2 separate regions of the Homo sapiens genome follow, and region 2 is linked to region 1. Evidence: fine-mapped expression QTL. A gene starts in region 1. The other region holds a variant in brackets. All regions are shown on one strand. Distances are from middle to middle.

Evidence for each region. PIP is the estimated chance that this variant, and not a neighbour inherited with it, causes the effect.
Region 2: its variant is fine-mapped to the expression of M6PR in whole blood (INTERVAL, PIP above 0.99).

The regions. Positions count from the first base shown.
Region 1 is chr12:8,940,919-8,958,621 of GRCh38, reverse strand. M6PR (mannose-6-phosphate receptor, cation dependent) reads left to right here and starts at 8,977. Exons shown (of 7, transcript NM_002355.4): 1 at 8,977-9,134; 2 at 12,217-12,393; 3 at 13,038-13,204; 4 at 14,712-14,821; 5 at 15,087-15,217; 6 at 16,080-16,206; 7 at 16,682-17,703. The coding sequence starts at 12,218. The coding sequence ends at 16,804. It overlaps PHC1 (polyhomeotic homolog 1), which reads right to left. Exons shown (of 15, transcript NM_004426.3): 15 at 17,155-17,703. It also overlaps a transcript of KLRG1 not described here. RefSeq lists enhancers at 1,594-2,793, 8,275-8,404, 7,903-8,807, 8,808-9,713 and a silencer at 8,383-8,597.
Region 2 is chr12:8,979,008-8,990,327 of GRCh38, reverse strand. KLRG1 (killer cell lectin like receptor G1) reads right to left here and starts at 782. Exons shown (of 5, transcript NM_005810.4): 1 at 611-782. The coding sequence starts at 692. The variant T/C (reference allele first, on the strand shown) is at 7,836.

The DNA.
Region 1 (17,703 bases):
GCCTCCCAAAGTGCTGAGATTACACACGTGAGCCACTATGCCTTGCCCCAGCAGGATTTTTTAACAGAAATTGACAGGTTGCTTTTAAAGTGTATATGGAAATGCAAAGGACCTAGAATAGCCAAAACAATCTTGAAAAGAGAAGAAAGACTTATAATACCTTTCTTCAAGACTTAATATAAAACTAGAAGAATCAGGAGTGTGTTATTAGCTTAATAATAAAGATATCAACTAAACAGAATTAAGTCCAGAAACAGAACTACATTTATACAATCAACTGATTCTCAACAAAGCTCTGACGCAATTAAGAGAGGAAAAATAGTCAAACAATGTTATAGGAAGTCATTATATATCCATATGGGGAAAAAAAGGAACCTCAGTGCTACCTCAACTATACACAAAAATTAACTCAAAATAGATCACAGACCGGGCACACTGGTTCATGCTTGTAATCCCAACACTTTGGGAGGCCATGTTGGGAGAAGAGCTTGAGGCCAGGAGTTTGAGACCAGCCTGGGTACTATAGCAAGAGCCTGTCTCTAAAAAAATTTAAAAATAAATTACAGACATAAACATAAAACTATAAGGCTTCTTAGAAGAAAATACAGATAGAACCCAAACGCCCATCAAAAGGGAATGAATAAGATGAGAAATACGATAGTTCCCCACCCTTATCTGCAGGTGTGCTTTCTACAATTTCAGTTACCAGTAGTCAACCGAGGTCTGAAAATATCAGATGAAAAATTCCAGAAATAAACTACTCATAAGTTTTACATTGCATGCTGTTCTGAGTACTGTGATAAAATCTTGCACTGTCCTGCTCCATCCCACCTGGGACATAAATCACCCCTTCATCCAGTGGAAACACGCTGGGGACACTCCCTGCCCGTTAGTGTCCCTCTCAGTTATCAGATTGACTGCCACAGTACTGCAGTGCAAGTAACTCTTATTTTACTTAATAATGGCCACAAAGCGCAAGAGTAGTAATGCTGGCTATGCAGACATGCCAAAGAGAAGTGTAAAGTGCTTCCTTTAAATAAAAAGGTGAAGGTTCTTGACTTACTAAAAAAAAACAAAAAACAAAAAAACAAAACAAAACAAACAAACAAACAAAAAACAAAACAAGTATTCCGAGGTTGCTAACATCTATGGTAAGAATAAATCCTCTATCTGTTAAATTGTGAAGAAGGGAAAAGAATGTGTGCTAGTTTTGCTGTTGCAACTCAAACTGCAGAAGTTACTGCCATGGGCCACGGTAAGTGCTTCGTTAAGACAGAAAAGGCATTAAATTTGTGGGTGGAAGATATGAACAGAAACATATTCTCATTGAAGGCAACTGGGTTAGATGCTGTCTACAGCAGGGGCCTTGGAACATGTCCCCTGAGGAGAAGGGAGGGCTACTGTATTCATAAAATGTAATACTACCCCACCAAAACACAAAACAAAACCTACTACTGATACATACAAGTTCACAGATATTACAGTGAAAGAAATCAAACAAATGCAAAAGGAACATGCTATTGACACAGGATTTTTTGGTGGTGTTCCACAGCCAGAGACCTCCACGGCCGGGGGGGCCCTGCTCAAGATCAAGATTCACTCGTGACCACTGGGCTGGCTCCACCCACTGGGCTTGGCAGGCTGTGCTTGGCTCTTGGCTAGCGGTACTGGCCCAGATCTCACACCCACCAAGGGCAAGCCAGGTATGCTAGCTGCTACAGCAGGGCATCACCTCCAGGCACCAGCTTCATGTGAAGCTGTGGCTGGATCAGGTATACTGCAAGCAGCTTCTGCCTTGGGCACTGGCATATGAACGAAGGGAACGCAGTGGCGTCCAAAAAACTCAAAAGACACCAGCAACTGCGGAACTTCAAAGGTCAGGTGCAGTGGCTCATGCCGGTAATCCCCACACTTTGGGAGCCTGAGGTGGGAGAATTACGTGAGGTCAGGAGTTCGAGACCAGCCGGGCCAACGTGGCGAAACCCCATCTCTACTAAAAATACAACAAATTAGCCGGAAGTCGTGGCAGGCACCTGTAATCTCAGTTACTCAGGAGGCTGAGGCAGGAGAATCACTTGAACCTGGGAGGCAGTAAGTTGCAGTGAGCCAAGATCACACCACTGCACTCCAGTCTGGGTGATAGAGTGAGACTCTGTCTCAAAAGAAAAAGAAAAAAAAATGCGGTGGGGGGTGTTACAGCATGTTACAGCTCTGGCTTGGGGAATCCCGAGGTCTGCACCCCGAAGAGTCTCAGCTCGTTTGTGTTACAGTTCATTCATTCCTGCTGTCCACAAGCTTTGCCGAACGGGGGCATGTCCCAACTTGTTCAGTCCCACCAGCCCACGGCTCCTGGGCTGGCCTGGCGCCACCACCACTTCCCATAACGTGGGGTGGCCGCCTGGTGCCAGGAGAGGGCAGGAGGGCTACAGCCTTTCACCTGCTGTTCTTTTGCACCCGCTGTTCGGCAGGTCCCGAGTTCTTGTCCTGCGTCCAAGAAGAATGAGGTTACACTGACAATTGCAGAGTAACCAAGGCAGAGAGGACGTTTATTCAGCAACAGAACAGCTCCCAGCAGAGAGGGGACCCAAAGGTGGTAGTCCCACTGTGTAGCTGAGTCCGGGAGTTTTTATGGGCTCAGAATGGGGGAGTGTGTGCTGATTGGTCCATAGGCAGCCTGGAAAAAGCACCATTTGATTGGCTAAAAGGCATTGCGGGAGTTCTCACTTGGGTCTTAGATTCTACCCAGAACTGGCAGGTGAGTTTTCAGGCTTCCGGCGGTCTTTGACTCGAAGGTTGGTTTTCACCAGGGACCCGCCCGTATCTACCTAGGAATTTGTCTGCTTCCCACCACTATCAGTATCTGTCCATTTATACTAAGTTCTAAAATAGGCAAAATTAATCTATAATTTAAAAAAAAGAAAAATTCAAAAGACCAGGCTTGATGGCTCATGCCTGTAATCTCAGCACTTCGGGAGGCTGAGGTGGAAAGATTACTCAAACCCAGGAATTCAAGACCAGCTCGGGGAAAATAAGGAAACCTCATCTCTACAAAAAATAAAAAAAAATTATCCTAGCATGGTAGCACACTCCTGTGGTCCCACCTACTCCACAGGCTAGCTGGGAGGATCATTTGAGCCTGGGAGGTCGAAGCTGCAGTGAGCCATGTTTGCACCATCGCACTCCAGCCTGAGTGATAGAGACTCTATCTCAAAAAAAAAAAAAAAAAAAAAAAAAAAAAAAAAAAAATCAGAGCAATAGTTGCCTCTAGGACTAGGAGAAGATGACTGGATAGGAGCATGAGGAAATTTTCTTGGATGATGAAAATCTTCTAAATTTTTTGATTACAGATAACAGTTATGATGCATTTGTCAAAATAAATTGAATTGTATCCTTAAGAGTTGTATATTTCGGCCAGGTGCAGTGGCTCACGCCTGTAATCCCAGCACTTTGGGAGGCCGAGGTGGGCGGCACAAGGTCAGGAGTTCGAGACCAGCCTGGCCAACATGGTGAAACCCCATCTCTACTAAAAATATAAAAATTAGCCAGACATGATGGCAGGCGCCTGTAGTTCCAGCTACTCGGGAGGCTGAGGCAGAAGAATAGCTTGAACCCAGAAGGCAGAGGTTGCAGTGAGCCAAGATCGCACCATTGCACTCCAGCCTGGGCAAGAGATCGAGACTCCGCCTCAAAAAAAAAAGAAAAAAAAGAGTTGTACATTTCATGACTTATATATTTTGCCTTAACAAGAGAAACCAGAACTTTAAACAAATATGGAACTCTTACTAGTAGGCTTGCTTCACACATCGTATGGCTTATCAGTTAAAAAATCACTTCCTGTGTTTTCTTATATGTGAATAAATGTATACATACAATGAATATAATGGGAACTTGGTTCACTCTTGGAAATAAACAATTTCCTAGCTCTGTCTGCTGACACTGAAGCAGTGACACACAAGTAGCAACAAACACAACTCGTAATCACATCTTGGTTTTTCAATACCATTTTCCACTAAAAGAACCAAGACCCCTTGGTGAAATGACTGATTCTAGGATAAGGGTAAGAGAACCACAAAACTTTTTAAAAATATACATTTGAGGCATACAAGATATTTTGATTGATACACATATACATAGTGAAGTGATTACTTCAGTCAAGCAAATTAACATATTCATCATCTCATGTAGTTATTTTTTTTTTGGTGGTAAGAGTACCTAAAATCTACTCTCCTGGCAAAGTACCAGTATACAATACAATATTAACTATAGTCCTTATGTTACACACTAGAACATTAGAATCTAACCGCAACTTCGTACCTTTTGACCTACATCTTCCCATTTCCCCTACCCCGCCCCTGGTAACCATCTTCCTACACTGTTTCTATGGTGATTTTTTTCAAGACTCCACATACAACCGATATCATATCATATTTTTCTTTCTGTGTGTGTCTTATTTCACTCAGCATGATGTCCTCCAGGTCCATTCATGCTGAATGCTACAAGATAAAATCGGAACATCTTATGTGCCTGAAAGTAAAGAATTCCTCAAAAAATCATATGGACATGTCAAAAGGATAAAGGAGGCACCACTAAAAGGCTCCCACTGGCTGCTCAACAGAGGCCCACACCCTCCCGCAACTTCTCGGCCTCATCAGTGGGTGGACTGCATGTTCCTGTGGTAGGAAACACACCCTCCCCTCAGAGATCTGAATCTCTAATCTTGCAGGTGGGGAAGGGAGCATTTCCTTTAACTTAAGTAACTCCTTTATTAACTCTTCTTCAGCCCTAGAAGTAACAGCTCCTTTTCGTAGCTGCTTCTTCTGTATCATAGAGTCCTCTTTTAGTAACTGATCATCTTTTACTAGAAAATAATTCTTTAAATTTTTCCTGTTAAAATCGCCAATATGATATCTGTTTCTGAATGGACCCTGATTGATATAAAAACGTATCACTTCCCTTGCATTTCTATCCAAAAAAAATGCAAACTTAAATATAATCATGAGGAAATGATAGCCGCAGGAGGCAGACAAATGCCTAGGCAGATCCCCAGTGAAACCCCATCTCCAAGCTGAAGACAGTTTAAAGCCTGAAAGCCAAGCTACAAGTCAAATCCATGGACCGGATTAAAAACCTGTCTTCCCATTTGGCACATTTTTCTTTGATTGATCCCCACCTTTCACCCATTTTATATACACCTACCCTTTCCTAATTGGTTTTCTACACTGTCGTGCCCACCTTTGAGTGGTGTCTTCACTTTAACTGTTTTTGCATACTCACAAACCAATCAGCACACACTTTCCATTCTGAATCCATAAATGCCCAGACCTAGCCACATTGGGTGAGAAACCACCTGACTGCAGGGGTGGGGGACCACCTCCACCTACCACATCCCCTCTCCGCTGAGAGCTGTTCCATCGCTCAATAAAATTCTTCTCCATCCTTCTCATCCTTCAAATTGTCAGCATATCCTCATTCTTCTTGGATGTGGGACAAGAGTTCAGGAACCACCGAATGCAGATACAAACTATAACACAGGCAGCAGGTCAAGTGAGGCCTGGGGGTTTTGCGGGGGGGGGGTGTCACTAGCTATGGACGGGTCCCTGGTTGGCAAAGTGACCGAGAAAAATCCTACATCAGATATATCAAACAAAACCAAAATGAAAGACATTCTACAAAACAAGTGGCCAGTACCTATCAAAATTTCAAAGTCAAGTAAGATCAATGACAACTAATTACAATGTGTGACTCTGGCTTGGCTCCTGTGATTGTTGGGAAATCGGAAGTAACTATACATAGCATCTATTGAAACGTGATAAAATTTTGAATACAGACTATGGATTTGGTAATATTGTATTAATACTGTAGTTCCTGATTTTGATGAGAGGATGTCCTTGTTTCTAGGAAATACACACTGATATATTTAATGGTAATGGAAGTTTACTCTCAACCTGTTCAAAATAAACTAATGTATATGGAGGGGAAAAAGATGAATTTAGGTAAAATGTGTACCAGAGTTCTTTGTATTATCCTTGCATCTTCTCTATAAATGATAAATATATTAAAATTGAAAGTTACCAAAAACTATATTTAGTCCTTGAAATATGGAAAACATGATCATTTTGAAAAGCATCTGAGCCGGGCTCAGTGGCTCACACCTGTAATCCCAGCATTTTGGGAGGCTGAGGCAGGCAGATTATTTGAGTTTAGGAGTTCAAGACAAGCCTGGGCAAAAATGTGAGACCCTGTCTCTACAAAAAATACAAAGATTAGCTGGGCATGGTGGCTTGCGCCTGTGGTCCCAGCTACTTGGGAAGCTGAGGTTCTAGGACTGTTAATTACCTTCCTCTCTTATGATTATACAGAACAGGAGGCATCCTTCCCATTTGATTTCAGACCAACAATCCTAGAACTGCTTTCTAAACAAGGTGAACAATTTACCTTGTGTGAGAGAAGGCAGTGTGGGTGTAGGTTTATTGTGGGGAGTGTGCTTGTTAATAATGAGGCTAAGAAAGGAGGCAGGCCAGAAATGCAAACAAACAAACAAAAAAAAATTCTGCTCATTTCAATTTTTGCCCCAGCAAGAACCTTGAGCTCAGTTCTCAGAGGTGAGAATTCTAACACAGAAAGCACCCAGAAAGGGCACTGAGGTCTGAGAAGCAAGGAAGTGACCCAGGTTGTTTGCCTCTGGTCGGAAAGGGAAACTACCCCTGCTTCCACTCTGACAGCAGACAAGTTAATCAACCTACTCAATTGCATTTTTGGCCCATTCCCCATTTCCAACATGAACAGTTCCTCCCCTCCAGCCCAATGCCACTCTAGGCAGTCACCAAGAGGTAAGATTTCTGAAATCAAAACTTGAATTAACCAACAAAGGAACATCAATTCTAGAACGGATTGTAACAGGGATTTTTGTCTTTTTTCTCTGCTGTATCCCCAAGATCTATATTATATATTCTGTGGTTTTGGCACATAGTAATTGCTCAGTAAAGCTGTGTTGAGTTACTTGATAAAAAATAAGTCAGTAGAAATAACTTAAATGCTCAACATTAATGTCATTGGTTAAGTAGCAATGCATAGAACTAAATATTATGCTATTAAAAAGTTTATTTGTAAAGTCAAGGATATGGAAAAATATTTGATACATACATATCTTTTTGAGATAGGTTCTCACTCTATCACCAAGGCTGGAGGGTAGTGGCAAGACCATAGCTCACTGCAGCCTCCAACTCCCAGGCTCAAGCAATCTTCCAGCCTCAGGCTCCCAAGCAGCTGGGACTACAGGTGTGCACCACCAAGCCCAGCTGATTTTTTTTTTTGAAAGAAGGGGTCTCACTATGTTGCCCAGGCTAGTCTTGAATTCCTGACCTCAAGTGATCCTTCTGCCCCGGAATCCCAAAGTGCTGGGATTACGGGCATGAGCCACAGTGTGGGACTGATACATTTTTGAAAAAAGGAAACAACATATATTCATGAAGGAAATACACACCCTCCTGGTGAGTTTATGTATGATTTTTGTTTTGTTGTTTTCTGTGTTATCTGATCACAAATTACTTTCATTTTCAGGAAGAAAAAAATTTAATTTTTTTTTTTATTGGGGCAACATCCAACCCAGATATGATTACTACCTAGCCTGAACTGAATGTATTACTAATAAACAAAGAAATGCAGAATGGCATACAGTCGGTAAAGCGTAGTGCTTGAGAGCATGGATTATGGAGACTATTTAAATACTGGCTCCATAACTTAATAGCTTGGGACCCACGGTGTTACTTAGCTTCTATCTGCTTTAATTTACTCATCTGTAAACTTGGGATAAGATACTTCCTCATAAGGTTGGTGTGAAGACCAAGTGAATTAACTATCGTTTAAAGCACTTACAAAAGTGCCGGGCACCACCGAGATATGCATCCGTTAGCTTTTATTATTATTAGACTCAAAACACTGTAGTAGTTCTAATGAGAGGGGTAAGAATCAAAAATCCAGGCACCTGCATAGAGCCAGAGAGGCACACATAGAAGCAACGTAAGAGTGGAAGCGGAATGAAAACATGCTAAAGCCAGGTACAAGCCACAAGCGAGGGTCCACAGGAAGAAATTGTTAATTCTGAAGAGAGTGAATGCACGAAGTTACAGGAAAAATAACATCTGAACAGAGTTTAAGAATGAGCAGGACTTCAACAAGTGGCTAGTAAGACATAAGGAACCTACAAAAGATCTTAGCAAAGGCGCAAAGATTACCATCGTATTGCTCGTTTCTTCCTACTTTGCAGAAGTAACCTCTGGCGAACAGAGGTGGTTGCAGAGCATGCTTATCAAGCAAAATACCACGAAGCAGTAAGGAACGACAGAGATAACAGTAACAATAATAATTCACCCCAAGGTACTCAACTGGAAAAAGGAAATACAGAGGAGAGGTGTCGTTAAGAAAGCCAGGACGCACATCACGGCCCCGTCGCTGCACTACTCTCGTCTAGGGGTCAACAGTGGAGTCGAGACTCGAAGCTTCCACGCGGCGGAACAGCGTCCCTCTCAGGCGGCGAACGGGCTAGGGAAGCGCCCGGAGGAGACCTAGCGTGAGAACTACAACTCCCGCGGAGCCCGAGGGCGAGCTGCCTGCGTAACTTCCGCTTCCGCCACCTGCCCCTCTCACCCTCTTCACTCGAACCCTACCCGGGAGCGGTCAGGCGCGTGACCCCGCGTGACCGGGGTGCGCGAGCCGAGAGGCCCTGGAAGCGGGACTCTGGGACCCCATTGAAAGAAAGGCAACCAGAAAAGGCGAAACGACAACCTCGATAGTGATTGGAGCTGATGGAACGAGGGCGGAGCTAAAGTCCCAGAATACTGGCCAATCAGAGTTTAAGATTATCAGGGAGCCCGGGAAGGGGAAAGGGGCGAAATGGTTCTATGGTCACATGCCGCGGGGTCTGGTGGGAGGAGCGGTTGCCCAGCGGCCTCTTGGCGCTTCCTGTTTCCGGTTCCCAGAGTGGGGCACAGCGAGGCGCTAGGGGGAACGCTGGCCTCTGAAACTAGCTCTGGGACCGGGGTCTGCGGCCGGCCCCTAGCTGGCCCCGTCTCCCATCCCCAGAAGGGTATTCACTGGGGATTCTGAGCTTTGGCTACTCCAGTTTCCCACGACACGTGAGTGTGAGGGGCGTGGAGGAGGAGGCGGGCTGGGTTGCGCTCACACTTAAGCGTCTGTGACAGGAGCCGGAATCGCATTCTCCCTTGACCATGGTTCTAGCCAAAGATCTGGCTGAGGAGCCCTAAGGGTAGAATGGAGGCGGAGGCATGAGAGCGGAGAGTCACGGAGTTCCGAAAGGTGTGAGGGAGAAAGGACTTCCAAGACCAGAGAGGGGATTTACGATATTTAGAAAGCAGGGAAAGGAAAATACCCCAAGTATGGAGTCCGTTGGAGGTGTTGGTGGATTTATTTGTAGGAGGAATTTTGGCCTGCATCACGGTGGGAGGTCAAGTGGCATCATTTGGAGAGGGTATGGCTACAAGCGCTTGGAAAGTCGGGACACTAGACAGAGCGAGAATTTCTGGCACCCTGGGAGAGCTTTGAGGGGGATGCGACTGTGGTGTGGATAAGAATGGCTGATGGACGGATTATCTTGTGTTCCTCGTTGTGGGGAGCTTCCGCTCTTGGGACATAGCCGCTACTTGTCTGAGGCTCCTTCTCTCTTGAGTTCTTTCAGCATTAGGCCTTTTAGCCAATTGAGGCTGCTTTTCTAAACATGTAGGCTGCTGGAGAAAAAGGGATAAGGACTGCTACATCAGAAAGGAGCCAGCGGGAAGACAGTAGAAATTCCACTGGTAAATGGCCATGGCTGTCTTAACAGATGGGGAAGTGAGTGCTACAGAGGCCCAGTGGTGTAAGCTGCTTCCCAGTTGCTGGCTTAGTCATTGGCCACCCTAATAAAGGATAATTTTTAGCATTGCCAAATAAAATAGATCTGTCGTTAGAGAATAAGAAAACTGAAAGATTTTTCAAGATCATAAAATCCTGCTCCTTATTTCCAAAGTATATAGACAAACTCTTGTACCTTGAGAATCTAATTGTAGCATATTAAAAGGGGGCTACTGGGCCCTTCCATTTCATTCTCTTCCTGATTGTTGCACCCCTATGTTTATAAGTTTTCCAGCAGTTATCTTTATGCCACGAATCGTCTAAATTGCCCCAGTAACTTCACACACATTTAATATCTGTGTAATGTACAGCAAGTAATTTAACAAGTAATTCTGTAAAGCATCAGTTTTCTCATCTGTGAAGTATGAAAAATTATACCTATTTTCTGGGTTGTGAAGATGAATGAACATAATCTAGGGAAAACATTTAGCGCATATGCCACTGAATTAAAGAGAAGCAGCTTAAATTTAAAGACAAGCCTTAAGCAGGAAAGAAGAATACAGTATAAATTTATTATCCTAACTTTTTGAATAATAAGCAAATGAAAGATAGTTCAACTCAGCTAATGGCTGAGGTGTTTAACCTTTCATCCCTTCCTAATTTTGTGAGATTCCTTGTTCTAATTTAGGAAAAGAAATCAACTGTCAGTTTTTAATTAGGTCCTGAGAGACTGGAAAGGAAAATGGCAGGCTAAGTCAGTCTAGAAGAAGGAGTCTCCTATTTCTTTTTAGTGAGTCAGCTGGTCAAGTTGTGTGTTGAGCAGTGGGTTAACTTAGGGAAGGTGGGAGTTGGAGGTCTGAGTTCTTTATTTCACCTCCTATTCAGTCAACTGTGTGAGGAATCACTTCCCCTTCACTTCTTAGTAGAAAAAAAAAAAAACCCACAGTTTTGGCTGTCTACTCTCATCTCCAAAAAATTGTTATGCACATAGTGGAAATATACATGTAGTTGTTCAACACAGACCATGAGCTCTGGAGCTAGACTCTCTGGCTCACTCCACTAGCTGTGTCTCAGTTTTCTTACTGGTAAAATAGCAACAATAATTGTATTTACTCATAAGGTTGTGAGGATTAATTAGTTAATTAATATATGTTAAGTGCTTTGAACAGCACCTGGCCCAAGGCAGTAGTCTGTTGTTTCCTGCTGTTGTGTGGTTTCAGTGCATTAAATGTGTTATGAGGGCCTTGGACCTCTTGGTTAGCTATGATTATTCTATGGAAACTACCATAATATTACAGTAGAGAATTGATGTTTGGGGTACAGGAAGTCAGGTAGACAATTTCCCGGGATTTTTTGCTTTAGTGGGGTGTGGGAAGTGGAAGGTCAGATGTTAGGTTGTTTAGGGGAATGGGGAAAGTGCATTCACGGCCAAGGTTGGAGCTTCCATTTTCCCATCTTCAAACTCATTAGTACCCATGAAAATTCTGCCTGTTTCAAGTTTTATATTTTAAAAATGAGGTGGAGTAAGTGGACCCGCATGAAAAAGAACTAGAGAACTTTAAAGAATATTCAAACCAAAGTCCAGACTTGCAGCGTTTTTTGTAAGTGAGAAAAGTTTAGAAGAGTTAAATCAGGAAATTGTCCGTGATACTCTTGGAATAAACAAGTAGCAATGGCCTGAGGGATCATTAACAGATACCAGAGTAAAGTGTTTTGCAAGGGTAAGTCAGTCTGTCCTGGGTATGAAGATGGATAAGAGAAAAGAAAATGTTAGGTTTTGGTGGGGTTTTTTTGCCAAAACCACAATGACCTTTGCACCAGTCTAGTAAGTTTGGGAAAGAGAGCTGTCTGTGTGTTTTCATTCCTAGAGCAGTACAAGCAGCAGGTGCATTGAATTTACTCAATTGTAAAGTGGCTTGGTGATCCCCAATTTGTTGTCATTGATTTGTAGTGTAAAAGACAACTGTACTTATGGGAAGTCTAGAAACCCTTGAGATTTGTGACCTGTAGAGGCCAAAGAGGTTTCAGAAGACTACATCAAGCCATCAAACAGTAAAGAGGCAAGGATGGCTCCACCCAAGCTGTCATCATTCTTTTTTAAGTTCTTTCATTTCCCTCTTCCCAACTTTGTAGTTTGTTCTGAAAGACTCACCTATACATTAGACTACAAGTTACATATAAATGAATTTTCTGCTGCAGATGCTCTTGTTACAGAGATATTAAAATGTACTATGTGTTGCATATGCCAGAGAATCTTGTACTTTCTGGATAATTAAAATACCATCGATTTATTACACATTCATACGCTTTATCTCTTTCCTCTCTCTCCTGATCCTACCTGCCCTCCCCAACACACACTCTCTCCCAAAGGATGTTCCCTTTCTACAGCTGCTGGAGGACTGGACTGCTACTACTACTCCTGGCTGTGGCAGTGAGAGAATCCTGGCAGACAGAAGAAAAAACTTGCGACTTGGTAGGAGAAAAGGGTAAAGAGTCAGAGAAAGAGTTGGCTCTAGTGAAGAGGCTGAAACCACTGTTTAATAAAAGGTAAATGAGAAGAACCTTAAAGAGCTTGAGAAAATATTTATGTTAAAGTCTTTTCTTCTTACTGATTTTATTTCATAATGTGCTCTCTTTTATGACATAGAGCAAATTCTCAGCCCAGTTTTTAGTTGCTGTGTGCAGTTTTCTCATCTTTCACAGAAGTGTAGCTATTTCCAAGACTGGATCCAAGAGACCAGCTTGTAGAAATTTAAGGATTATTTGACACCTACATATAATAGGACTTTAGAAATATCAGATAAACATATTTAGGCCGACACATGTCATTATAAGTGTCAGGAACCTTCAGATATATAAATCTGAAGTTGGTCCCTAAGAAACGAGACTATCCGATGAACATGGGCCCTTATTCATTGGAACATGGTTACTAACAGGCATTCTAAAAATAACTAGAATATTGAGCTATCAAGATAGCTCAAGTGTGTTTTAATAATTCATCATCAGCAATAAGGATGGTCTGTCAAGGTTATGAATATCTTAAAATTAAACAAATATTCACTCAGCCATGACCTCAAATAAATAAATCGAGCATGTTGTTTGTTTTGTTTTAATTAAGGAAAGGGATGCTGTTATTCCTGAGGCTGATAGCTAGTAACTCTCCTCTTCTTTCTTCCCACTTCTCTTTACAGCTTTGAGAGCACTGTGGGCCAGGGTTCAGACACATACATCTACATCTTCAGGGTGTGCCGGGAAGCTGGCAACCACACTTCTGGGGCAGGCCTGGTGCAAATCAACAAAAGTAATGGGAAGGAGACAGTGGTAGGGAGACTCAACGAGACTCACATCTTCAACGGAAGTAAGAAAACTCCCCTTCCTACCATCGATTGACTAACTGATCCCAAGTCAATCCCTCTGACAATCCTGTATGTCTTGGCCGTTTCTAGTGTCTTCAGCATATCATACGTGTGGTTCGGCACACCTGAGACTGTAATATACCACAGGATGCCTAATTCCACAGCTCCTCTGTAAGCCACAGCTCAGGACAGTTGTGCATTAAAATCAGTGAAAAACTTATGCAAAATGAAGACTCTAGCCAGAATTGTTTTGTTTTGTTTTGAGACGGAGTCTCTCTCTGTCACCCAGCCTGGAGTGCAGTGGCACAATCTCGGCTCACTGCAACCTCAGCCTCTTGGGTTCAAGCGATTCTCCAGCCTCAGCCTCCTGAGTAGCTGGGACTACAGGTGTGTGCCATCATGCCCAGCTAATTTTTGTATTTTTAGCAGAGACAGGGTTTCACAATGTTGGCCATGATGGTCTTGATCTTTGACCTCGTGATCTGCCCACCTTGGCCTCCCAAGGTGCTGGGATTACAGGCATGAACCACCGCGCCCAGCCAACTCTAGCCAGAATTCTGTAGCCTAGAGTCCTTTTATTCACCCAAATACTTTTAATGAGTTTCACACTAGACTTACAAATACCAACCACCACCACCACTTTTCATCAAATTAATCAAAGTTTACCAGTTAAATTTTAAGAGCTCAAACTTTTTTTTGCAAACTACTCAGTCTGCAAAACTTTACCCACTGATTTTTGTGCTATGGTGGTGATATTTCTTAAAAGTCATATTGCTGGAGAGGACCATGTAAGCACCTATGGTCCAATTCCCTCCCATACAGATAAATAAGTTATACAAGGTAGCTATTTACTCCTGGTAAATAATACAATAAAAAAGTAACAAAAGGGTTTGGGGCTGGGGATCATGTGACCAGGTTCTCCTCCTGTTTCCTAATCCTGTGACTGGAAAGTCGTATCACCTTTTGACCTTGTTTTCTCATATGCAAAACTAGGAGCAGAATCTTTACCTTATTCACCTCACAATTACTGAATCAAATGATATTTTGCAAAAGAACTGAACACAGTAAATACTAAAGAAGAGATATGCATTCCAATCTTAGATATCCACTCTGAATTTATCTGGGGCTAAGTTGAAATCTTAGATGGGCTTACCCCTGCTGCTCAGCAATTGTATGGAACCTCTTTTTTTGCTTTTAGAAGGTATTCAGAAAATGAATCAGTGTTAAGGTATGGATCATAATTGGTTTTGCATTGTCAGTTGCCTACCTTTAATGTTAAAAATTAAGATTATTCTTAAATGAATATCTGATTCTTGTCTTAAGGGAACACAAGTCTTTGTAAGCAAACAAGTTTAGCTTGGCATTTCTGGTATACCAAGTTCGTACTGATGAGGGTTGTTTAGTTATAACCAATTGCAATGAATTACGCAATTCCACTCTGCCATACCACCCAGATCTGCCTCTGCTTTTCCCCCACCCCATAGCTCCATTTTCCTTGTCCCTCCTCAGGTAATTGGATCATGCTGATCTATAAAGGGGGTGATGAATATGACAACCACTGTGGCAAGGAGCAGCGTCGTGCAGTGGTGATGATCTCCTGCAATCGACACACCCTAGCGGTGAGGCACCCTGTGTTGTATAAGCCGAGGGAGGAGACTGAAAGGACTGACCTGAGGTTGGGGAGAATATCCAGAGGGGACACGATACGTTGGGATGGACATTAGAAAACTAGGAGCTCAGTTTCTCTCTGTGTCAGACACGCATCTTCCATGGAAAATAGGCTGCTGAACCAGGAAGGAGCAGATGTTTTTTGGGTTTTTTATTTTGTTGGACAGGAGTCAAAACACTTAACCACCTGAATGTGTTATGCCATCTCATCATCAGGACAATTTTAACCCTGTGTCTGAGGAGCGTGGCAAAGTCCAAGATTGTTTCTACCTCTTTGAGATGGATAGCAGCCTGGCCTGTTCACCAGAGATCTCCCACCTCAGTGTGGGTTCCATCTTACTTGTCACGTGAGTATGCCTTCCTTTATCAGAACAGACCTTCCTTCCTTTTGTTTTTAAGGTCAGTAACTATATGGTGGTACATAAGCACAAATTGTATGTGTACATTATGCTGTAATTGATGGGGATAACTTTTTAAATCCTCTGGCTATAAAATAATTCTGCCAGGACACAGGGCTCACGCCTGTAATCCCAGCACTTTGGGAAGCCAAGGCAGATGGATCACCTAAGGTCAGGAGTTTGAGACCAACCTGACCAACATGATGAAACTCCGTCTCTACTAAAAATACAAAATTAGCCAGCACAGTGGCACATGCCTGTAATCCCAGCTACTTGGGAGGCTGAGGCAGTAGAATCACTTGAACCTGGGAGGTGGAGGTTGCAGTGAGCTGAGGTCGCACCACTGCACTCCAGCCTGGGCAACAAGGGCAAAACTCCGTCTAAAAAAAAAAAAAAAAAAAATTCTGACTGCAAGTTTTTGAAAAATGAGATTTAATGTTTAGTTGCCGGTATAGATTTGCATTTGGAGGTGCTTTTTTCCCCTACTGCAGGACTAGGCAATTTTTATATTATTTCATTAGATTATGAGAACTTCTAGAGAAATGGAATCATATACTTAATGGTGATTATTCTTGGCCATAGAATCACACGCTGTCACATTTTGTCTGGGCCTTTGCTTCTCTTGGACTGACAGCACTCTAACTGGTTTTCTAAGAGTTACCAGCCCCCTTTTTCATTTAGTATCACTACTCATTTTTCCTTTTCAGGGAATGTATCTTAGGAAACAGCTGACAATAAATGCAGAGGTTATCCTATCTGAGTTTTTACTATTTCCCAGTTCTTAAGTATAGATGTCTTTCTCTCTCTACAGGTTTGCATCACTGGTTGCTGTTTATGTTGTTGGGGGGTTCCTATACCAGCGACTGGTAGTGGGAGCCAAAGGAATGGAGCAGTTTCCCCACTTAGCCTTCTGGCAGGATCTTGGCAACCTGGTAGCAGTAAGTAACAGGGCAGCTGGTTGAATTTGTAGCCTGCAAACAAGGTTGGGTGACCAACCATCCTCGTTTGTTCACACTGAGGGGGTTCCTGGGACACAGGACATTGAGTGCTAAAACCACAAAAGTCCCAGCAAACAAGACAGTTGCCCTAGTACAGAGTAGTAAGTGGCACAGCATCCATTTCTGGCCTTGGTAAGACATTGCTGAAAGAGCAACACTGTTGACCAGATGGGCTCTTCTAAATCTGATTTAGCTTTTAAGAGGGCCTGGGTGGGAAGAAGGTGAGGCCTAATAAGAAGAAACTTTTTCTCCTGTTGCCCCAAATTGAATTTAGGCTGATTGTCAGATCTTTTAGGTTTTCTCATTATCCCTATAGAAAACCAATTCTTGCCACATTCCTAGACCATAAGTACACTTTCTCATATCCTAAAGTTAGATGCTGCGAATTATTTCCTTCTTTTTTTTCCCCCTACAGGATGGCTGTGACTTTGTCTGCCGTTCTAAACCTCGAAATGTGCCTGCAGCATATCGTGGTGTGGGGGATGACCAGCTGGGGGAGGAGTCAGAAGAAAGGGATGACCATTTATTACCAATGTAGATTGCACTTTATATGTCCAGCCTCTTCCTCAGTCCCCCAAACCAAAGCTACACAGCCAGATTTCTCAAGCAGTCTCAACTCCAGTCCCTCATCTCACCCTTACTATTGCTCTTGCTTTCCAGTTTGCTTTTGATTTGCATCTTCTCACTAGTAAAACTGCCTTCCCTTTGTTCCTTATTTTCTGTTTTTTCTCTAGAGAGGTACAGTTGTAAGTCAGAGTTAATATAATAGGGCCTGTGAAAACAGAGGCTTTTGCATTGTCTCTTGACATCAGAAGTTACAATAGGCATATGGGCAAAATGGTGTAGCAGGCTCACTGGCCGTTTGTTTTTTAAACACATTTTCACAAGTTTTTGAGACACTGGATTTCTTTAATTAAAAAAAAAATGCCAAGAAACATTATTTATACAGGGTTGATTGCTTTCATGTTGTTATTCTGTACCCTATAGTAGCCTCCATGAGAATCTGGTATTTCTTGCTGCTTGGAACTACTTTGCAGTGATTACTTGGTTGCAGTCCAAGTACTCTCGTTTAGTCTGAGCCTGGAGATGTTCTAGACTTGCTTCTCCCACCTCTGAGATTAGGACAGGAAAAATGTGAAATTTCCCAATTACAGGATTATACGGTACCATCACATCATTTGTGGAAATTGGGGTGACTGTATAGCTGGGATTGGGCTAAGGACTGTGGTCTTATCTGTCCACATACAGCCAAAATGCCTATCCAGAAATCCAGTTCGTTGGAAAGGAAAATTGGTACTCCTGTGCCACAGGGGTTCCAGAAAAGGGAAGTCACTTTACCTTGCGGTGGTGGGATCCTGATGTCTTTCATCCATTTGTAGTAAAAGCTGGTAAAGCTTTTCTTACTCCTGGTTCCCTACCAGTATTTCTAAACATGTC
Region 2 (11,320 bases), 35 kb before region 1:
ATTCTCTCAGGGCTCTATGTAAAAATGGCTCTTTTGCCTTCAAATCCTCAGTCACAGAGACTATTATCTGTAGTTTCTTGATACTTTTTCTTCCCTGTCACCATTCTAGTGCAACACTGTGAAGTTAAAAAAAAAAAACAAAACTAGATATGTAAATCAGTTTCTTTCCTGACAAAAATCTTACTCGTATCCACCAGCAAAACTATTGGTGTCCTCCTCATTCCATAGTCAGAAAAACAGCCATACCTAGAATTTAAACAGCTGGTCCAAGGTTACTCCGAATATAACTAAAGAGATAAAATTCTCCCAACAAAGTTCCCGCTTTAGCTAAGAGCAAGAAGGAATAACGGCAATGCCCTAAGTTGGGTTTCTAAGATGCGATCAAAGAAGTGAACAGTTAGAAAAGAGTTTACCTGAGACCTAAGATCAGATCCTGTACCATACACCAACTTTTCATATTCCAACTCTGGACTTTAAACTGAACCAAAAGTATTTCCTCAAATTATCCTCAATTCTTCTGCACCCTCTGCTTTAAACTTATTCTACTCCCCATTCATCCATAGCCTACTGTTGCTATGCATCGTCTTCCATGCTACCTTGGTTAACTCACATTTTTGCTGTGGTCCATAGTCATTCTGGGCTTGGGTTGCCGTAGGCAACTCTAACATGGAATAAATAACACTGTCAGTCATCTTCAGCTAAGATCTTTCACATGCAGTTGAGAGAGTTAAATTATAGAAGTGTGAAGGGATATGTATCAGTGAGGAAACAGCCCAATCTCTAAACTGCTAGCAGGAAACTTCACAAAAGCAGAAGTAATTTTTCAGGAAATGATTCAAATTTGGGGGCTGCCTATAGAAATTAATATTGTAAGTTGCTATTTTTTTGCCCCATGACACTGTAGATGCTCACTAAATATATATTAAATTGATTCCCCATCTCACCTAATTCTGTTGAGCAAGGAAAAATTGCTCTCAAGTCCAGCAATTTCAGTTATGGAAACTAAAATAAAAGTGAGAGTGGTTACTAGCTATGAATTTCTCTCGGAATTTTTTCTCTGCTTTGTTTCCTTCTGAAAAAGTAGATGTATGCCAAATGAGACTGACTTCATCATTTCTTGGAACTTTTGGGCAGTGATAAGCAATAACGAAATGGACTGTTGGGTGCATATGCCTGGAATCACGGGAGAAATAGACTATTACCCAGATATATTTTGTGAATATGACATGACCACATCTTCCCCAAAACCTTGTCCAAATTGTGTGATGGTCTTTACCCTTCACAGTATCAGAAATTCCATTATATTTTTTCTCTTTGTTGTCTTATTTTTTTTATTATTATACTTCATGCAAAGATAACTAAAAAGAAGAGCAAAGTAAACAAATACATTCTAACATCTTAGTAATTTGTTTTTAGTAGGTGAAAAGTTAATAAAAAGTTAGAGTAGGCCAGGTGTGGTGGCTCACGCCTGTAATCCCAGCACTTTGGGAGGCCAAGGAGGGTGGATCACCTGAGGTCAGGAATTCAAGACCAGCCTGGCCAACATGGTGAAACCCCGTCTCTACTAAAAATACAAAAAAATTAGCTGGGTGTGGTGGTGGGGGCTGTAATCTCAGCTGCTCAGGAGGCTGAGGCAGGAGAATGGCTTGAAACCGGGAGGCGGAGGTTGCAGCGAGCCGAGACTGCACCATTGTACTCTATCTAGCCTGGGCAACAAGAGTGAAACTCCGTCTAAAAAAAACAAAAGTTAAAGTAAGGAAACAGAAAGAGTATTGAAACTCTTAAGAGTGGATAAGATCATCAAGATAGACTGCATAAGGATAAAAGAAGAGAAACAGGGAGTGCTTTATATTAATTTGTTTTATATTAATAAAAACAAATATATTTCTGCTTCCAGCCATGACAGAATGGCATTAGACTTACTCTCCAATCAAAATACAACACATGGCAAGACACACAAGGCAGCTATTTTCAGGAACACACAGGCAGCATTGTGATCCTTGAGAGAATACAAAGGTGAGTGCAATGATCACCCTAGCTTTCTATCTAGGACCACTTTCTAGTACAGAGCACAAAAATGAATCCTAAACAGAACAGCAGTCTTACTAAAATGAGGAGGCAGATATTGGAGTTTTGAGCTGCTTAAATGGCTGGAATTTGCAGGGCAGGATAATTCACAAGAGAGAGGCACCCTTAAGACTGTAGGAATTCACTGTATGTCTGTGGCCAAGTTCTAGGCTGCGCAGACATAGGACAAAACTCTGCAAGTCCAAGCTGAGATAGTTCCTGCAGGGCCAAGAGCTGAACAGAAAGGACAGAGGTGATGCATTGCTTAGTAGCACCAACCAAAAACAGAGCAAAACTTAACATTGCCAAAAAGAGTCATCAATAGTTTAGCTGCCTCTGAGAACAAATTTTCACGCCCTTAATATGAAGGCAAAACAAACAAAATGTGGTCTACACATACAATGGAATATTAGTCTTAGAAAGGAAATCCTGTCATACTTTATAACACTGATGAACCTTGAAAACATTATACTAAGTGAAATGAACTGATCACAAAATGACAAATACTGTGTGATTCCACTTATATGAGGAATCTAAAGTAGTCAAACCCATAGACAAAGAAAGAAGAATGGTTACTGAAAGAAGTTTGGAGGGAAAAAGAAAAGGAAGTTGCTTAATGGGTACAGGGTTTCAGTTTTGCAGTGTGATTAAGTTCTGGAGATACGGTACACAACAATGTGAATATTCTTGTATTCACTTGCTTGGACTATCACAACAAAATACCATAGACTAGGTGACTTAAACAACAGAAATTTATTTATATTTTCATCATTCCACAGACTGAAAGTCTAAGATCAAGATGCCAGCAGAGTTGGTGTTTGGAGAGTGCTTCCCCTGTGGGTTGCAGACTTCTCACTATATCCTCAAGTGGCTTTTCCTCAGTGTGTGCACAAGGGAAGAAAGAGAGAGGGCTCTGGTCTCTCTTCTTACAAGAACATTAATCCTATCAGATCAGGGCCCCACCCTTGTAACCTGATTTAACCTTAATTACTTCCTTAAACACTCCATCTCCAAATACAGTCACACTGAGGATTAGGGCTTCAATATGTGAATCTGGGGGAGACAAACATTCAGTCCATAATAATACTTAACACTACTGAATTGTATGCTTTAAAATAATTAAGATCATTTTTTAAAAAAAGGAAGGTGTATTAGTCCATTCTTGCACTGCTATAAAGAAATACCTGAGGCCAAATAATTGATAAAGAAAAGAGGTTTAATTGGCTCACAGTTCTGCAAGATGTACAGGAAGCATAGTGGCATCTGCTTCTGGGCAGGCCTCAGGAAACTTAGTCATGGTGGAAGGCAAAGGGAAATGTCTTACATGGCCAGAGCAGGAGCAAGAGAGACGCGGGGAGGTGTTACACACTTTTAAACAACCAGGTCTTGTGAGGAACTCTATCAGGAGAACAGCTCTAGGGGTATGGTACTAAACCATTCATGAAAAACCATCCGCGTGATCCAATCACCTCCCACCAGGCCCCATCTCCAACACTGGAGATTACAATTCAACGTCAGATTTGGGTGGGGATGCAGATCCAAACCACATCAGAAGGCAACATAGGAATCAGGGGCTCTTTGAAGAAATGGCTAATTCTAGGGCCAGGACAGGGAAAGTACAAAATAAGCTTGGAGGATCTTCCAGTCTTTTAATGTTAAAAAATAAGCAAGTTAAAAAAAAAAAGATGGGAGCATATCAGGACACAGAAACCAACCTGGAAAAGCTCCCAATGGAACAATATGAACAACAAAATAAATGACAGTGTTGAATTATAACACAAGGGGAAAAACTATATAAATCCATACTGATTTAAATAAATAAATAGGTGAGAAGTGACAAATCTTGCTTACAGAAAATACCAAATAATATATGTAGATACTCCCCATTCAGGATGTGGAATTTAACTCTCCTCCCTTTGAGGGTAGTCAGGGATAAGAGACTCACTTCCAAAGAGTACACTATGGATAAAAGGAAATAGTAACTATTCATTAAAGAATCTTGGCAAATACCACCTCAACCACATGAACAGGGTTCACTGCGTGAACCACCAGTGATGAGTCTTGTTGATATCATGTACCCCCTAATATGATGCAATGATAAAAGCACCTAACCAGTAAGGTTTGTTCCCCAAAATCCATAACCCCAGGGTGGTATTATACATATGTATATATTGGTTTTCATCCACAGTTTCTGGCTCCTAACTCCTATGGTCCCTGTTACAGTCCTTTCTTATAATGTTGAGTGTGTCAGGCCCCAAGGGGAAGGCCTCTGGCCTTCTTCTGCCCTCCTTTCATCTGCCTCAAGGCAGGACTCTAATTTTCCCCTGCCTTTCTGATTGTGGGTCTTAAAACCTTCCCCAGAGAGGGTCCTGCCCTTTACTGGGGTGACAAGGGGAGGGGGTCAGCAGCAAGAATGCTGATGTCCTGAAGCTTCCATAAAAACCCAAGAGAACTGTGTCAGAATGCTTCCAGATGACTGAACCTGTGGAGATTCCTGGAGAGCAGCCTTCCCAGAGAGGGCATGGAAGCTCCACACCCCTTTCCCCATACCCTGCCCTACAGTTCTCTTCATCTGTATCTTTTGTAATATACTTTATAATAAACTGATAAACATAAGGGTTTCCCTGAGTTCTGTGAGCTGCTCCAGCAAATTAACTGAACTCAAAGGGGAAGTTGTGGAAATCCCAACTTGAAGCTTATTGGTCAGATGTTCCAGAGGCCCAGACTTGTGACTGGTGTCTGTGGGTGTAGGGGGTGATCTTGCATATTGAATCCCTGAAATGTAAGATCTAACACTATCTCCAGGTAGATAATGTCGGAATTGAATTAGAGGATACCCAGTTGGTGTCTGCTAATTGGTATGTGGGGAACACCCCTACCACATTTGGTCACACAAGTCTTCTTCTGTGTTGATAATTGTGGTAGTGCTGGTGTGAAAGCAGAAGAAAAACACAGCTGAAGAAAGTTTTCCCCTACACATCCAATGTAAACATGCAAAAAAAAAATCAGATAATTCTAAATTGAGTGGTACTCTACTAAATATCTGACCAATACTCTTAAAATATATCAAGTTCACGAAAAAAAAAAAACACTGAGAAACTGTCATAGACCAGAGGAAAACAATAAATATAACAACTAGATGTAATGTGGTATCCTGGATTGGATCTTGGAACAGCAAAAAGAGCATTAGTGGAAAACTGGTAAAATTCAAACAATGTAGCAATATTCATTTCTTACATTTGAGAAATGTGCCATGATTTTTTAAGATGCTAACATTAGGGGAAATGGGGTGAAAGGTATAAAGAAATGTTCTGTGCTATCTTAAAAACATTTCTGTAAATCTGAAATTATTCCCCAATAAAACTTTTCTTCAAAAAAGAGGATACATAACACAGATTAGCCATAATGCATCACATTTAATATCTAGCATACAATAAAATATTATTAGAATCCAAAGAAATAAGAATATATGGGCCATGGATCAAAGAAAAGTCAGTAAGTAGAAAAGAAACTTATGTAACATAGATGCTGGAACTAGCAAACAAGGACTTTAATATCTGCATAAATACGTTCAAAGACTTAGAAGAAAATATAGTCATAATGAATAAAAATTTGAAGAATCTCAGAGAAGTAGAAACTACCAAAAAGAATCAAGTGACTATTCCAGAACAGAACAGCATTCATAATTTTTAAAAATAACTGAATGAGGGCCAGGCACGGTGGCTCACAGCTGTAATCCAGCATTTTGGGAGGCGGGGGCAGGTGGATAATTTGAGGTCAGGAGTTCAAGACCAGCCTGGCCAACATGGTGAAACCCTGTCTCTACTAAAAACATAAAATATTAGCCTGGCCAACATGGTGAAACCCTGTCTCTACTAAAAATATAAAACATTAGCCTGGCCTGGCGGCACATGCCTATAGTCCCAGCTGCTCAGGAGGCTGAGGCAGGAGAATCACTTGAACCCAGGAGGCAGAGGTTGCAGTGAACTGAGATTGCACTACGGCACTCCAGCCTAGGTGACAGAGCGAGACTCCATCTCAATAATAATAATAATAATAGCTGAATGAGATTAATAGCAAATAGAAGAGGGCAGATAAAAAGGTCAGTAAACATGAAGACAGATTGCTAAAAATAATCCAATATGAAGAATAGAGGGAAAAAATGGGAGAAAAAAATGAACAGAACCTCAGTGACCTATGAACAATGCCAAATAGTATAACAAAAGTGAAACTGTAGTCCCCCAAAATAAAGGGGACATATAATGAAATCGGAAAGGAATTTGAAAAAGTAATGATCAAATATTCCCCAAATTTGGGATACAACCTACAGGTATAAGAAACTCACTGAATCCGCATCAAGATAAACAGAAGGAAAATCACTCCTAAGAACATAATCTAAAACTAATAAAAACCAAAGATAAAAAGAAAATACTGAAAACAGCCAGAGGAAAATAAATAACACATTAATAATGGGAAACAACACATGAATGATAGCTAAATTCTCAACAGAAACAAAAAAGGAGAAAAGCAATGAGATGTCATCTTTAAAATGGTAAAATGGGCCAGGCACGGCGGTTCACGGCTGTAATCCCACCACTTTAGGAGACCAAGGCACATGGATCACCTGAGCTCACCAGTTCGAGACCAGCCTGGCCAACATGGTGAAACCCCGTCTCTACTAAAAATACAAAAATTAGCTAGGTGTGGTGGCAGGCGCCTGTAATCTCAGGTACTCTGGAGGCTGAAGCAGGAGAATCGCTTGAACCCAGGAGGCCGAGGTTGCAGTGAGCTGAGATTGCACCATTACACTCCAGCCTGGGCAACAAGAGCGAAACTCTGTCTCAAAAAAAAAAAAAAAAAAAAAAGGTAAAATGGTAAGACTGCCAATACAGAATTCTATATCCAGAAAAAGTATCCAATAGAAATGAAGAGGAAGTAAAAATATTTTCAGAGCAGAGAAAATAGCAAATTTGTCATGAGCAGTCCAGCACTACAAGAAATGCTAAAAGAAGTTCTTAGAAAATAAGTATCACTAGATAAAAACATAGATATACAGAAAACATTGAAGAGCAACAGAAATGGTAAATATATAAGTACATATAAAGAATTATATTTATTTTCTTTTCCCATCTTAATTTCTTTAAAAAAAACAGAAAGTAAAACAGATAAGGCAAATCATTTTAAAAAACAGCAAAATGATAAAGCCAGTCTTATCAATAATTGAATTCATCATAAATGGACTGCTGCACCAAATAAATGGCACAAATTGTAAGACTAGAAGAAAAAGCAAGAACCAAAAAGATATTGTCTGTTCTGGCTAGGCATGGTGGCTCACACCTGTAATCCCAGAACTTTGGGAGGCTGAGGCGGGCAAATCACCTGAGGTCATGAGTTCAAGGCCAGCCTGGCCAACATGGTGAAACGCTATCTCTACTAAAAATACAAAAAATAGCCAGGCGTGGTGGCAGGTGCCTGTAATCCCAGCTGTTTGGGAGGCTGAGGCAGGAGAATTGCTTGAACCCAAAAGGTGGAGGTTGCAGTGAGCCAAGATCGCACCATTGCACTCCAGCCTGGACAACAAGAATGAAACTCCATCTCAAAAAAAAAAAAAAAAAAGATATTGTCTGTTCTGGCTGTAAGATATGCACTTTAAATATAATGACAGATTAAAAGAAAGGTATACAAATATATACAATGTGCAAACCAATATACACATTACAGTAAGCACCTGGAGTGGTGTGTTAGTTTCTTATCACTGCTGTAACACA[T/C]AACCTAACACAAACTTAGTGACTTAACATAACATATATTTATTTTCTTAAAGTTTTGTAGGTCAGAAGTCCAAAATCAAGGTTTTGGCAGAACTGATTTCCTTCTGGGAAAGTCAAGGAAATGTTCTCCTCTAAAGCCTCCAGAAGGAAATCAGTTTTGCCAAATTTCAAATTTCTTGGCTTGTGGATTCTTCTGCCACCTTTGAAGTATATAATTCCAACCTCTGCTTTTATTGTTACAACTCTGTTTTCTGACTTTGACTCTACTGCTTCCCTCTTATAAGGACTCTCATAATTACCTTGAACCCACGTGAACAAACCAGCATGATCTCTCCATCTCAAGATTATTAGCTTAATCCTATCTACAAAGTATCTGTCATATAAGGTAACATAATTATAGGCTGAAGGGATTAGGGTGTTAACATATTTGAGGTGGGGAGAGACATTATTCAGCCTTCCACAAGTGGTCATACTAATATAAGACAAAAATAGGTGAGTATAAAGAGGTACATTTCATAATTACATGAGTTACTGATTGCATCAAGCATATATAACAACTATAAATAAGTATGCACCTAATTTTGAGCTTCAAAACATATGAACAGAAGCAAAAGCTGAGTTAAAGAAAAATAAACATCAATAATCATAGTTGGATATTTTAAAAACCTTTTCTCAGTAACTGATAAAACTATTAAACAAAATTCAGTAATAATATAAAAAACCTCAACACCACCATCAACCACCTTGACCAAATTAAATTAACCCAACAAAATGACATTCACCAATTAAAGAATACACGTTTTTAGGTGTAAATAAAATGTTCGCAAAGATATATTACATACTCAGCCATAATATAATACATTACAAAATATTAAAATCTTACAGATATATTTTATAACCACAGTGAAATCAATAACAAGAAAAAATCGACATAATTCCTAAATATTCGGAAATTAAAATACCCACTTTGAAGAATAACCCATGGGTAAAAGAAAAAAATAATTTTAAACGTTAAAATATTTTAAATTAAATGATTATGAAAATAGAATACAAAAATATATAGAACACAGCTAAAACAGTCTTACAGCAAATACTGTAGTTTTAAATGAATGGAAAAGAAAAAAATTAATAAATAATCCAAGTTTATAATTTATGAGGGTTAAAAAAAGAAGAGTAAATTAAAACCAATGTAAGTAGAAGAAAAGACAGAATTTTAAAATGGAAAATTAATAAAATCATGAAACAAAGACTAGAAAAATTAACAAAGCCAAAATTTGGTTCTTTGACAAGATTAAGACTGATAAACTTCTAATAAGATTGAGCAAGAGGACTAACACAGCAAGAGAGCAGACTAGGATGTACCAGTCCTTATATATCCACAAAAACAACAATTTAGCAATTATCCACAGATGAAAATAGCTCTGGGAGAGTTCTGGAGTGCAATTAAAAAGCTGCTGCAACTCAGTGAAACAGAAAAACTGAGGATGGTCATGCAGAAAAGTGTAGAAAGCATTTTACCTGTGTAACCCCATTCCCCAGGCTGGCAAAGCTCAAAGACAAGAGGAATACCATCAGCTGTGACTTCCTCACAAGGTGAAAAGGAGAGCAGGAAAACCCATGCAACCTGTGCCACTCAGGACTCTAGCAGCCATCCCCACTGCCACAAATACCCACAGCCTTAACTGCCAAGGACCCCCACAGTCTTCAAGAATGCTGACACCAGCCGATGGAGCTGCCCAGAACTCACACTGCTGCACCCCCTCCAAAGCTAGAGCCTCAGCCACACCCTCTGGAACCAGGATGAATGCTGCTTATTTACCCCAAGCCCAGCATTGCATGTGTGCACTCACCTATCAGACCCAATGCCATGACACACCCTTTAGAACTAGTGCCCATATGTGCCCCACAAGTCTCCAGTCCCATGCTGACCCAGTGCACCATGCACCTCACCCAGCCACTACCCTTGCAGGCAGTAAGAGGTGACTGCTGTTTCAAACGCATTGACACCACTGCAAGCCTATAAGGAACATAAAAAATTAAGAAAATATGACATCACCAAAAAACGCAATAGATTTCCAGTAACCAAACCCAAAGAAATGGAGATCTATGAATTGCCCGACAAAGAATTCAAAGTTAAAGTGTTTTAAAGAGGCTCAGTAAGCTAAAGATAACATAGATTGACAACTCAGTGATATCAGAAACAATATATTAACAAAACTAGAAGTTCAACAGAGAGATAGAAATCATTAAAAAACAAAAAAACAAAAAAAACAGGGCCAGGCATGGTGACTCACACCTGTAATCCCAGTAATCCCAGTAATCCCAGCACTTTGAGAGGCTGAGGTGGGCAGATCACCTGAGGTAAGGAATTTGAGACCAGCCTGGCTAACATGGTGAAACCCTGTCTCTACTAAAAATACAAAAATTAGCCAGGCATGGTGGCAGGCCCCTGTAATCCCAGCCACTTGGGAGGCTGAGGCAGGACAATCACTTAAACCTGGGAGGCAGAGGTTGCAGTGAGCCATGATCGCACTACTGCACTCCAGCCTGGGCAACAGAGCAAAACTCCAACTCAAACAAAAAACAAAAACAAAAAAAGCAGAAATTATAGAGCTGAAGAATACATGAGTAAAATAAAAAATACAATACAGAGCTTCAACAGCAGACTTGATCAAAAGAAGAAAGATTCAGCAACCTCAAACACAGGTTATTTGAAATTATCCAGTCAGAGGAGAAAAAAAAAGAATGAAAAAGAAAACCTCCAGGATTTGGGAGACATGAATGTGCAAGCCAATATACACATTATAGAAGTCCCACAAGGAGAATAGAGAAAGAAGCAGAAAACATATGTAACAAAGTAATAATTGAAAACTATCCAAATTGAGGGAAGAACATAGACATCCAGATTCAGGAATCCTAAAAGATTCCAAGTAGGTTAAACATAAAGAAGTCTACACCTAGACACATTATAATTAAATTGTTAAAGGTAAGACAAAGAGAATTTTTAAAGTAGCACAATAAAAATGACTCATCACATATAAGACTATCAGTAGATTTCTCAGCAGAAACCTTATATGCCAGGAGGATGGGATGATATATTCAAAGCACTGAAAGAGAAAACAGCTAAACCAAGAATACTATACTTGGAAAAATTATCTTTTAAAAATGAAGGACAGGCCAGGTGCAGTGTCTCACACCTGTAATCCCAGCATTTTGGGAGACTGAGGCAGATGGATCACCTGAGGTCAGGAGTTCAAGGCCAGCCTGGCCAACATGGTGAAACACTGTCTCTACTAAAAATACAAAGAAAATTAACCAGGCATGGTGATGGGCATCTGTAATCCCAGCTACTCAGGAGGCTGAGGCAGGAGAATTGCTTGAATCCAGGAGGCACAGGCTGCAGTGAGCTGACATTGCACCATTGCACTCCAGTCTGGGTGACAGAGCAAGATATGTCTAAAAAAAAAAAAAAAAGACAGGCCAGG